Homo sapiens: one gene and its partners. The protein of the gene in region 1 interacts with the protein of each later gene in a pairwise test. Each region holds a gene or a part of one and is shown on either strand. Other genes may lie near its edges. The genes, in order: ORM1, BLVRB and TMEM37.

What was found.
Region 2: the proteins of ORM1 (region 1) and BLVRB interact in a two-hybrid assay, tested with the Homo sapiens proteins (one large-scale study listed by BioGRID and IntAct).
Region 3: the proteins of ORM1 (region 1) and TMEM37 interact in a two-hybrid assay, tested with the Homo sapiens proteins (one large-scale study listed by BioGRID and IntAct).

The regions. Positions count from the first base shown.
Region 1 is NC_000009.12:114,321,468-114,325,213, forward strand, and holds the start of ORM1 (alpha-1-acid glycoprotein 1 precursor), read left to right. Parts: upstream 1-1,630; 5' UTR 1,631-1,666; coding exon 1,667-1,780; intron 1,781-2,195; coding exon 2,196-2,338; intron 2,339-2,550; coding exon 2,551-2,621; intron 2,622-3,322; coding exon 3,323-3,430; intron 3,431-3,581; coding exon 3,582-3,685; intron 3,686-3,746. UniProt on the Homo sapiens protein: Functions as a transport protein in the blood stream. Binds various ligands in the interior of its beta-barrel domain. Also binds synthetic drugs and influences their distribution and availability in the body.
Region 2 is NC_000019.10:40,463,575-40,467,320, forward strand, and holds the start of BLVRB (flavin reductase (NADPH)), read right to left. Parts: upstream 2,172-3,746; 5' UTR 2,115-2,171; coding exon 2,036-2,114; intron 1-2,035. UniProt on the Homo sapiens protein: Enzyme that can both act as a NAD(P)H-dependent reductase and a S-nitroso-CoA-dependent nitrosyltransferase. Promotes fetal heme degradation during development.
Region 3 is NC_000002.12:119,430,283-119,434,028, forward strand, and holds the start of TMEM37 (voltage-dependent calcium channel gamma-like subunit), read left to right. Parts: upstream 1-1,571; 5' UTR 1,572-1,621; coding exon 1,622-1,642; intron 1,643-1,790; exon of another isoform or gene 1,791-1,968; intron 1,969-3,746. UniProt on the Homo sapiens protein: Thought to stabilize the calcium channel in an inactivated (closed) state. Modulates calcium current when coexpressed with CACNA1G.

The DNA of each region.
Region 1 (3,746 bases):
TTTCCTTGAGACGGAGTCTCACTCTGTCACCCAGGCTGGAGTGCAGTGGCGCCATCTCAGCTCACTGCAAGCTCTGCCTCCCAGGTTCACGCCATTCTCCCATCTCAGCCTCCCAAGTAGCTGGGACTACAGGCGCCTGCCACCACGCCCAGCTAATTTTGTTTTTGTATTTTTAGTAGAGATGGGGTTTCACCATGTTAGCCAGGATGGTCTCCATCTCTTGACCTCATGATCCGCCCGCCTCAGCCTCCCAAAGTGCTGGGATTACAGGCGTGAGCCACCGCGCCTGGCCGACCTGGCTAATTTTTAAATATTTTTGTGTAAAGATAGGGTCTCACTATGTTGCCCAGGCTAGTCTTGAACTCCAGGACTCAGGTGACTCTCCCATCTTGGGTCCATTAAGCTTTTAACTACAAACTACACTGAAATATGAAAGTTATTCAGAATGAAATGAATAAGAATGCAAAATTATAATCATACCGTAAGAATACTTTCTGAGTAATCCCAGCACTTTGGGAGGCCGAGACGGGTGAGTCACCTGAGGTCGGGAGTTCCAGACCAGCCTGGCCAACATGGAGAAACCCCATCTCTACTGAAAATAACAACAACAAAAAAAATTAGCTGGGCGTTGTGGAGGGCACCAGTAATCCCAGCGACTCAGGAGGCTGAGGCAGGAGAATCGCTTGAACCCAGGAGGCACAGGTTGCAGTGAGCCGAGATTGAGCCATTGCACTCCAGCCTGGGGGACGGGAGTGAAACTCCGTATCAAAAAAAAAAAAAAATGAATACTTTCTGAAAGTATTTATTCATACAAATAAAGACTTGACCCGTGAGGTAGGAACACAAATGGGCCACGGAATCACTCATTCCACAGAATATACCGAGTGCCCTTGAAGTGCTGGGCACTGCTCCAGGATTGGGGGCGTATTGGTGAAAGAGAAGCAAGCTGCCTGCTCAGATGGCAGGGAATGGGGGAAAACAGGGAGACAGTTTCCTGTTTGAGATGTTGGGAGATGCTTCGAGTAGTATATTTACTGGAAATAGACATTCAACTTGGATGTCCCTTTTTGGAAATGTGCCTGCGTCCAGGGCTGGGTTGGGGCCCCAATGAACTTTGGCTCTGACACAGCTGTTGCCACACTCAGTGGAACTGAATCTATGTTTGTCTTCCCCGGCATCCTTCACCCCAACTCTCCCCGCCACAACATACATCCCATGCCAGCCTGGGGACCCTCAAAGGTGGCTTCATCATTAGGTTTGTGGCTGGGTCCCACTGAAGTAAGTCTTGGCACTCAGAGGGATAGGAATTGAATGAAGACATGAGATTCCTCTGCGGGAGGCCTCTCTAGGAAATCTGTGGACTCACACGTTTACTAATGTTGCTGCAGCCCCGCACCCACCTTGGCCTTGGGCAGCCATACTCTAGGGCTTTTGTAACCTCTCCATGTGAGGAACTCAAATTAGACCTGGGTTTGGAGGCGGTGCTCCGAGCTGGCCTTTGGGGGAGGTTTTGTGCGAGGCATTTCCCAAGTGCTGGCAGGATTGTGTCACAGACACAGAGTAAACTTTTGCTGGGCTCCAAGTGACCGCCCATAGTTTATTATAAAGGTGACTGCACCCTGCAGCCACCAGCACTGCCTGGCTCCACGTGCCTCCTGGTCTCAGTATGGCGCTGTCCTGGGTTCTTACAGTCCTGAGCCTCCTACCTCTGCTGGAAGCCCAGATCCCATTGTGTGCCAACCTAGTACCGGTGCCCATCACCAACGCCACCCTGGACCGGGTGAGTGCCTGGGCTAGCCCTGTCCTGAGCACATGGGCAGCTGCCTCCCTTCTCTGGGCTTCCCTTTCCCTGCTGGCTGTGGTCGGACCCCCACTCCCGGCTCTGCCTTTTTCTCTTCTGGGTCCCCAGGGTGAAATTCTCACCAGCCCAGGGGACTCTGGAGGCACCCCCTGCCTCCAAACACAGAAGCCTCACTGCAGAGTCCTTCACGGAGGACGGTTCTGTGCTGGGCCTGGAGGGGCTGCCTGGGGGGCAATGACTGATCCTCAGGGTGAGCTCCTGCATGCGCACTGCCCACCAGGGGCCTCATCTCCCCATCTGCAAAATCAGGGAGAGATCTGCCTGAGTCTCCTCCCAGCTGACAGTCAAAGATTCAGCATCAAGCCCCCATCACCAGCTCCCACCTTCTCCCCAGATCACTGGCAAGTGGTTTTATATCGCATCGGCCTTTCGAAACGAGGAGTACAATAAGTCGGTTCAGGAGATCCAAGCAACCTTCTTTTACTTCACCCCCAACAAGACAGAGGACACGATCTTTCTCAGAGAGTACCAGACCCGGTGAGAGCCCCCATTCCAATGCACCCCCATCTCAGCTTCTGGCCAGAAGACCTGAGCAAGTCCCTCCTTCTTCCTGGCCTTGGCCTTCCCATGGGTGGAACCGGGAGGGCTGGCTTTAATCTCCACCAGACTCTTGCCCCAGGACTGTGATGGGCGATTGGCCACTTCTCAATAATCTTCCTGTTTTCCTTCCGCCTTCTGTTTGGCTTTAGACAGGACCAGTGCATCTATAACACCACCTACCTGAATGTCCAGCGGGAAAATGGGACCATCTCCAGATACGGTGAGGGCCAGCCCTCAGGCAGGAGGGTTCACTGTGGGAACAGGGCAGGCCAGCATAAGGTGGGGGCTGGATGTAGAGCCCTGGAGGCTTTGGGCACAGAGAAATAACCACTAACATTTTTGAGCTCTAACGATGTGCTCAGAAACAACTCTAAGAGGACACTGAGAGAATTAGAGGAGGAAAAAGAAGAACAGAGACCTCAAATAGTTTCCCCAAGGTCACACAGCTTATAATTAGAACTAGAATTGGAACTCCAGGCTGGCTTCAGATCTGCCTCTCTCTCATGCCCTCTTTAAGATCCTTTGCAAACCAATGGTAGAAGCCTGTATGTTGGAGAGGTGGTACCTTCAACTATGTCCCCCATCACCGCAGAGGTGGCACATGGCAGGGAGCTGATGGAGCTGAACTGACACCATTTAGCATCCCGAGCCTCCTCTCTGGGCCTCATTTTCCTCATCTGTAAAACGGAGAAAGGCCCTGACAGCCACGGTCTGTGTGAGGCTCCTGAGATCTCATGTACAGAAAGTGCTTGGCGTGGAGCTGGGCATGCAGCAGGGGCTGGGCACACGGTGGCCCAAAGGAGCCCTGGGCCTTCACTGATGGGCTGTGTGGCCACTGACACACCTAGGCCTCCTCACCTGTAAGACAGACACCATTGTGCCATCCCATGTTCTCACCCAGAGGCTCCTTTTCTCTTCCAGTGGGAGGCCAAGAGCATTTCGCTCACTTGCTGATCCTCAGGGACACCAAGACCTACATGCTTGCTTTTGACGTGAACGATGAGAAGAACTGGGGGCTGTCTGTCTATGGTAGGCATGCTTAGCAGCCCCAAACTCATGCCCCTCTCAGGCCTCACCCCCCATTCACCCACCCCTGGGCTGGCCCCTAGAACCCCAGCCCTCCCTGGCCTCCCGCCGGGCCCCACCATGTCCCCAGTCAGTCTCCTTGCTCCCCCTGCAGCTGACAAGCCAGAGACGACCAAGGAGCAACTGGGAGAGTTCTACGAAGCTCTCGACTGCTTGCGCATTCCCAAGTCAGATGTCGTGTACACCGATTGGAAAAAGGTAAACGCAAGGGATTGGACAGTGCCCACCTTGTCCATGGCCCAACTTGGGCAGCCCCAGA
Region 2 (3,746 bases), on another chromosome or scaffold:
CCTCCCTCCCTCCCTCCATCCCTCCCTCCTTTTCTTCCTTCCTTCTTTCCTTTCATCTTGCTGTGTCACCCAGGCTGGAGTGCAGTGGTGCAGTGATGCAATCTTAGCTCACTGCAACCTCCCAGGTTCAAGCGATTCTTGTGCCTCAGCCTCCCAAGTACCTGGAATTACAGGCACGTACCACTGTGCCCAGCTAATTTTTTTTTTTTTGAGACAGAGTTTCACTCTTGTCGCCCAGGCTGGAATGCAGTGGCGTAATCTCGGCTCACCACAACCTCTGCCTCCCGGATTCAAGCTATTCTCCTGCCTCAGTCTGCCAAGTAACTGCGATTACAGGCACCAGCCACCATGCCCGGCTAATTTTTCGTATTTTTAGTAGAGACGGGGTTTCACTATATTGGCCAGGCTGGTCTCGAACTCCTGACCTCGTGATCCACCTGCCTCAGCCTCCCAAAGTGCTGAGATTACAGGCGTGAGCCACCGCACCCAGCCTCTTTTTCTTTCTTTTTATGTATTTTTTTAAATTTGAGAGACAGGGTCTCACCCTGTCACCCAGGCTGGAGTGCAGTGGTGCAAACACAGCTCACTGTAGCCTTGAACTCCTGAGCTCAAGCAATCCTCCCACCTGAGCCTTCTGAGTAGCTGGGACTACAGGCATGCATCACCACGCCCAGCTAATTTATTTTTTTTTTGTATTTTTGTAGAGATGGGGTCTTGCTACGTTGCCCAGGCTAGTCTCAAACTCCTGGCCTCAAGCCATCCTCCCGCCTTGGCCTCCCAAAGTGCTGGGATTATAGGCATGATCCACCGTGCCTGGCCAGCCCTTCCCTTTGCTGAGGGGGACAGCAAAGCTGAGAGCTGGGAAGAGATTTTTCAGAGCCACAGCTCTGAAGCTCCCTAGGCTCCAGTTCTTAACCCTCTGAGTGCAGTCCCAGCTATGACCAGCAGGGTGGGCGAGTGGAATTCGGTGGAATTAGTGGATTTCCAGGTGACTCAGCGCCTCTCAACTTCTCTCTCTTACTTCCTTCTCCATTACTCCCGAATAAATGCTTATCAGCAAACTGGTTTTTACTGAGAGGCCCACAGCTCCCCATTCTCCACAAGTCAAGATCCTCACGTGGTCTCCCTGGGGAAGGGGAGAGTTATGGACCTAGAGAAGAACTTTCAGAGTCCCTCCAAGGGAGACAGCAGAGTGGGGTCCTGTTGGCCTCCACCCTTTTGGGGCACGCAGATAGTCAATATCTTCAGCGTCCCCAAGGCCTGCAAGGGTGGGGCCCCATATCTGGAAGTCCCAGGCCCAGCTGGGAGTTGGTCAAGTCTGGGCTGTGGGGGCAGGGAGTGCTGGGGGATGGTTATCCCCTTTTCTGCCCTCTCTCCTGGGGCAACTCCAAATTTTCAGCCCTCATTGACTTTCCCAGGACTGCTGTCCCCAAGTCTTCACTCATGTCTCTCTGTGACTCCTTCCCATTAGGTACTCGCAGCAACCTGACCCCCCAACTTTTTCAGTTTCCAGCCTGGGGACTTGTGGTGGTTAAGAGCATGAGCTGAGTTCAAATCCCAGTCCTGTCAGTTAACAGCTGTGTGATATTGGGCAAGTCACTCTCTGGGTCTCAGTTTTCTCATCTGTCAAGTAGGGTGATACTAGTTCCCACCCCATTTTGAAAGCTCTCATGTGAAGAGACGACAGAGCAAGCTTGGCTTAGTAAATCCTCTCTGGGAGTGCGAACAACCACCACCACAACCACAATAATGACAACCGCATTGCATAAGAGCCCTGGACTTACACACGACTGTGCCAGTGGAGTCCTCCCGGGGCTCCCGGGGCCAATTCCTCTCTGGCTTGGACTCACATAAACTTGGATCTCACATCTTTCCCCATTTCTGCCCCCGTGGCCACTTGCTTTGGCCCCTGAGTCCTCATACACCTGGCTGGGGCGCTCATGGCCCCAATCAGCCTCGGCCCGACCCCATGGTGCCCCTTCCTAAAGTTCTGCCCGTCTGTCCCGTGACATGCCCCGCCCGCCCCGGCTCATGCCTGCTTGCACCGCCTGCGCCAGGGTGGTGAGCCCGGTCTGGCCAGTGGCGCCGAAGATCGCGATCTTCTTGACGGCCATCGTACGGGATCGTGGGGGTGCAAGGCCTCAGAGTCTCGGCACGCGCGGGAACCCACTGGCTGCTGGGCGGTGCTCTCTGCCCTACTCAAGCCAGGAACAACGGGGCGGAGCTGGCTCGAAGGGCCACGCCTCAGACTCTCCGCCCGCGGCTCAGGTCAAGGGGCGGGGCCTAACGCGGATGGGCGGGGCAGGCGTCAGCTTGCATTCGCTCACCGTCCAGCACCGCCCTCTCTGCGCGCCACTTAGACTGGAAGGCGGGGCCACAGAAGGCCACGCCTCCACATAGCAACAAATAGAGTGGACGGAGCCGAGATAACTTGTCACTCAGCGCCCTGCCTCCGCGCTCCACCTCCCGGAGAGGGGCGGGGCCAGGCGAGCCTCACCCACGGCCTCTCGTAGCTCACGCCCCCTCTCCCGGAGCCTGGAGCGGATCTGGGGCGCACTCTAAGCCCCAGGGCCTCCCAGAACCAGCAAGGGGAGAAAGTTAGGAGGACAGAGTGTGTGTGTGCACTTGGATGTAAGACACTGTGTCACGGCGTACCTATGCACTTATATGACCCTGTGTGACTCAGTGACCCGGAGGGCAAGCAGGACTGTGGGTGACACCTTGTGTCATCCTCTGAGTGTGATCCCGTGTTACAGTGTGACTACACGTGCGTGACACCACGTGTGGCAGGCATTGATTCTGTTCTTTTGTGACCTTGTGGTGACACCGTGGGTGACACTGCGTCAGCCTGTACGATAGGGTGTGGGACGTGTGAGGTGTGCTACATGGAAGCGTGAGACTAATTAGACTGTGACAGTGTGTGACACCACATGTCTCGTGTAAGGATGTGTGACACCGGGACCCCATTCGAGTGTGTGGCTGTGGGTGTCTGTGTTGAGCTGCTCATTGTGACCCCCTGTGACTATGATGTGTGAGGTGCGGCGGTGCAGCATGTGCGGGGCGACTGCTATGAAGGTTCGAGTGTGTAGAGTGTGTGACACTGTGGCTGTGAAGCTGTGCGTGATGTGTGGGCCTATGACACTGTTTGTGACTGCCGGGGAGTGTGCGGCTGTGTGTGACAGGTGCATTTGTGTGTGACGCCGCGTGGGCGGTGGTTACCCTATTGGATTTGTGTGGTGGTGGGTGACACCGTTCCAGTGTGGACGCCGCGTGTGACGGCGTGAGGGTGTGACCCCGTGAGACCCCACAGGAGGGAGTGACGGCGCGCAAGCGCGTGGATGCGGGGGTGAGTTTGTGCGCCGAGGCCCCCGCGAGTATGGCAGCGTGGCGAGCGTGACCCCGTGGGAGTGTGCAGCGCGTGACGCCGCCGTGCCCTCGCGAGTGCAGCCGTGCACCCCACGCCGCGGCCGGGTGTGACTGCGCGTGGGCCTCGGGCGGCGGGGCGCGGGGACCGCGGGCGGGAGGGGGTCCCGGGGGCGCGCTGAGCGCGGCGGCGGCGCGAGAGAGGGAGGCGCGGCGGCGCATGCGGATCTGGCTGAGCCGCGGGCCGGCGGGGCCGAGCTGAGCCGGGCTGGGCCGGGCCGGGCCGGGCCGGGCAGCGGACGCCGACAGGGAGGGCGGTCGGTCGCGGCGAGCAGCGGAGACAGCGACGCTGGCGGCCGCGGGCCCAGGTGAGCTGCTAGGGG
Region 3 (3,746 bases), on another chromosome or scaffold:
CACTTGAGGCCACTCAGCCAGAAACTCTGCAGTGGGGCCTCGCAATCTGTTTTAACAAACCTTCCAGGTGACTCTGGTGCAGAATGGTGGCAAGAACTCAAACCTGGACTAGGCCTGCTGGGTAAGTGGAGTCCCAGCTCTCCAGTGGACTCAATGTGGGTGGCCTGGGCCAAGCCTTCCTGTGCCTGGGCCATTTCTCCGTTTGTCAAGCTCCAGGACTGGGGTAAAGGATTTGACAAGGTCTGTTGGGCAGGGATGGAATCAGATGAATATCTAAGTGGAAGATATACAGACAATTGTAACTACCCCTCTTTCTCACATGGCTCTAAAGGGGAAAACAGATGAGTGCAGTTGCTTTGTCTTTGGGTAAAGTCACCAGGAGCTGCCTGCCTGAGTGAACCAGACAATTTAATGTGTGCCATTTAGTGAGGGGCCTTGTTTTACCACCACATTTGAGGATGGGGGGAGGGAAGCCTTTCTGTTGGAATTTGTGGCCCTTGGACACTCCTCCCACCTCCACCCTTTTTGGCGGTAAAAGCTTTTAGGTGCTGCCTCTTTAAGAACTCAGATCCGGCCGGATGCGGTGGCTCATGCCTGTAATCCTAGCACTTTGGAAGGCCGAGATCGGTGGATCACCTGAGGTCAGGAGTTCGAGACCAGCCTGACCAAAATGGTGAAACCCCCGTCTCTGCTAAAAAATACAAAAATTAGCAGGGCTTGATGGGGCGCGCTTGTAATCCCAGCTACTCGGGAGGCTGAGGCAGGAGAATCGCTTGAACGGGTTTGAACCCAGGAGGCGAAGGTTGCAGTGAGCCGTGATCGCGTCATTGCACTCCAGCCTGGGCCACAAGCGCTAGACAACGTCCAGAAAAAAAAAAAGAGAGACCTCAGTTCCCATCGAGGTGGAGAAAAAATAACCACATTTGTTTGGCATATTTGCATTTTTAATAGTCCCTGAGGAGTTCAGGAGGAAACAGGGTTTTACATCCCCTTTTAGGGACGCAAGTAGGATTGCCCCAAAAAGTTCCACTCCGTTCACACTCAGCGAGGGCCCGGCAAGAGCCCCACCTTTCACATTCATTATTTCCCTTACTAACCGAGGCTCCGAGACGCTAAACAAGCAGCCCAAGGTCACACCGCAGAGTGAGGGCAGCAGAGCCTCTGCGCCTGCCTCCTCCCTTCGGACCCTGCCGCGTTCCCAGAGGCTGGACTCAGCAAGCTGGAACAGGAATCGAACCCTCAGGCCCTCGTCGCCGTCCCAGCCCTCGAGGAATCTGCGCCCCAGGCGAAGCTGTCCTCGGAGGTTCGGGAGCGTCGGAGTGACTTCCCGATCCTTTCCCCTGGGACCCGAGGGATCCCTCCCCCCAAGTGCCGGGTCCTCCCCGCGGCTCCCCAGGGGCTCCTCCGGCCGCCCTCGCTGACTCAGCGTAATCCGAGCCGCGGAGGGCGGCGGGGTTGGCGGAGCCCGCCCGGGGTTAATCGCCGAGCTTTGAACGCCCCCTCCCGCCCCGCCCGCCTCCAGCAGCCGCCCCGCCCCTGCGGAGAAGTCCCGGGCTGGCGCCGGCGGCCACAGCGGAGCAGCTGGAGCGATCGAGGCTGCAGCGCGGCCGCCGGGCGCAGCATGACTGCCGTCGGCGTGCAGGTAGCCGGCGCCTGGCGGGGCGCTGACCCGGGGTGCTGCCCCGCCGTGGGAGGTTGGGGGTGGGAGGACGGAGGGAGGGGCGTACCCACCGCGAGCGCCGGCGTCGGGCTGGGGGTGCGAGCGCCCCCCGTGCCCGCCCCCTGTTGCAAACCTGGGTCCGGAGGAGGCTGGGCGGGGAGCAACCTCGGGGGGCCTGCCTGCCTCACATAGCTGCTCCCGAGGCGCGGACTCCGGCTGCTTCTGCTCGCGGCCTTGCAAGCACCCGAGGCTCCCAAACTTCATTTGGAAAGATTTTTCTTCTCTTTGGTGTCACCAGTGACTTACTGGTCAGTTTACCATAAGGGTCCCCCTTTGTGAGAAATGAGGCGCGTCTGGGGTGGAGGGACAGAATCGACTTGCAAAGTGAGGCTTATGTAACAGAGGATGCGTCTCTTGGGAAGTTAGACCTTTCTGGGGGTGGAGGTTAGGAAGACCGTCTCCCTCCCCAAAGCTGCGTTTGGGGTGCTGGGCTGGGGGTGGACTTGCTGAGTCGCGCGGACACCTCAGGGAAAGGCTCTGGCGAGGGAAGAAGCCCGTGTCTCCGAAGATTTGGCTTCTCCTTAGCGTAGTGCACGATGTTTATGTTGGCTAAGAACCTACACATTCCTACCCGCTCCCTCGGGCCTGCTGCTCCCCAAAGGGAAGTCAGTGGGTGGCGGTACCGCTGCCCAGCGGGCGAACTTCCTTTCCGCGCAACTCGCCCGCTGCAGAGTCTATCCGCTGGACTGTCTCCAGGATTAGAGAGGCCCGTTGACTTCGTGTACAAACGCTCAGCCACAACACTGACCTAGTAGACACCGTTCTGCCCATTGTATAGATGAGGTAACCGAGACTCAGAAGTAAGGTGCCCTCCGTGGCTGGCCAAGGAACAGAATCAAGATTCAAACCCAGGGCTTTCTGGCTCCAAATCCCACTGGCTCCTCCTGCCTTTACCTAACGGGAGAAACCCCACCCACAGGACACCCCCAAAACCGCTTCTATAGCCAGGACCTAGGCACCTGGGCGAAGCCGGGCATGGGGCGCAGGGAATTCCTCCCCTTTGTTCTGGGGGATGTCTGGAATCCCGGCCAGGCAGCATGGTGGGACAGACCAGGTGCGGTCCCTCCCCTCTAGGAGCTTACAGCCCATGTAGGGAGAGAGACTTGGAAACAGGGCATGGGGGAGCGAATGCTAAATTAAGAGGTGCAAAAGTTGCCAGACGGGGAAGAGGAGGAAGCCTGGTAGCAAGGTGGGAGCTCAGCTGGGGAGGCCACAGGCTCCAGGTGAAGGGCGGGTGCTCCGGCCGCTTCGGGATGATAACTCTTCATCCCCACAACCATGACTTGCCAGGGGGCAAACACAGGTAGGAAGCAAGTTCTGGGTCATGCAGGCAGCGGTGGGCCAGGCTGCAGCTGAGAGGAGCAGAGGCAGGCCGGCTCATCAGGAGGCTGTGAACTTCCAGGATGTTGACGATGGTGATGGCCTCACCTGGGTAGGGGCAGAGTGGGTGATGAGGGGGAGCAAATATGGGAGACATGTTGGGGATGTGCGGAATGAGTTGGGAGGAGCTTAATTTGTCTACCTGGGGGTGCTTTGGTTAAGGGGAACACATGAGGCCCTGGGTTATAGGAGGAAGACCATGACATTGGACTCAGTAGCCCAGTAGTGTCAAGTGACCCTATTCTATAGGTCACTAGAAATCATGCAAGGTTACAGATGAAAAAGGAAAATGCTTACATTTTTAGCAGAGCAGTTAAGCTCCAGAGAGATTTAAGTGATTGCCTAAAGGTACCCTGCAGGGGTCCTCTAGGTCAGGGGCAGGACTTGACCTCCCCGCTCCCTTCTTTTCCACTGCACACTTGTCCAGCTGCCCTCCAGTAGCCGTTTCAGGCCCTGCATCACTGAAAGCTGGTGGAGATGCCGGGTGGTTAGGAATGAAGACTCTATATGTGTTATTATTGTTATTAATATTAATAGCTACCATGAGTTGGGAGCGGCCCGTGTACCATGCATCTTTATATACAGGATCTCATTTGATTCCTGGGAGTTTCAGTGGTGGCCAGAGAGTTTAAATGAAGCCCTACTT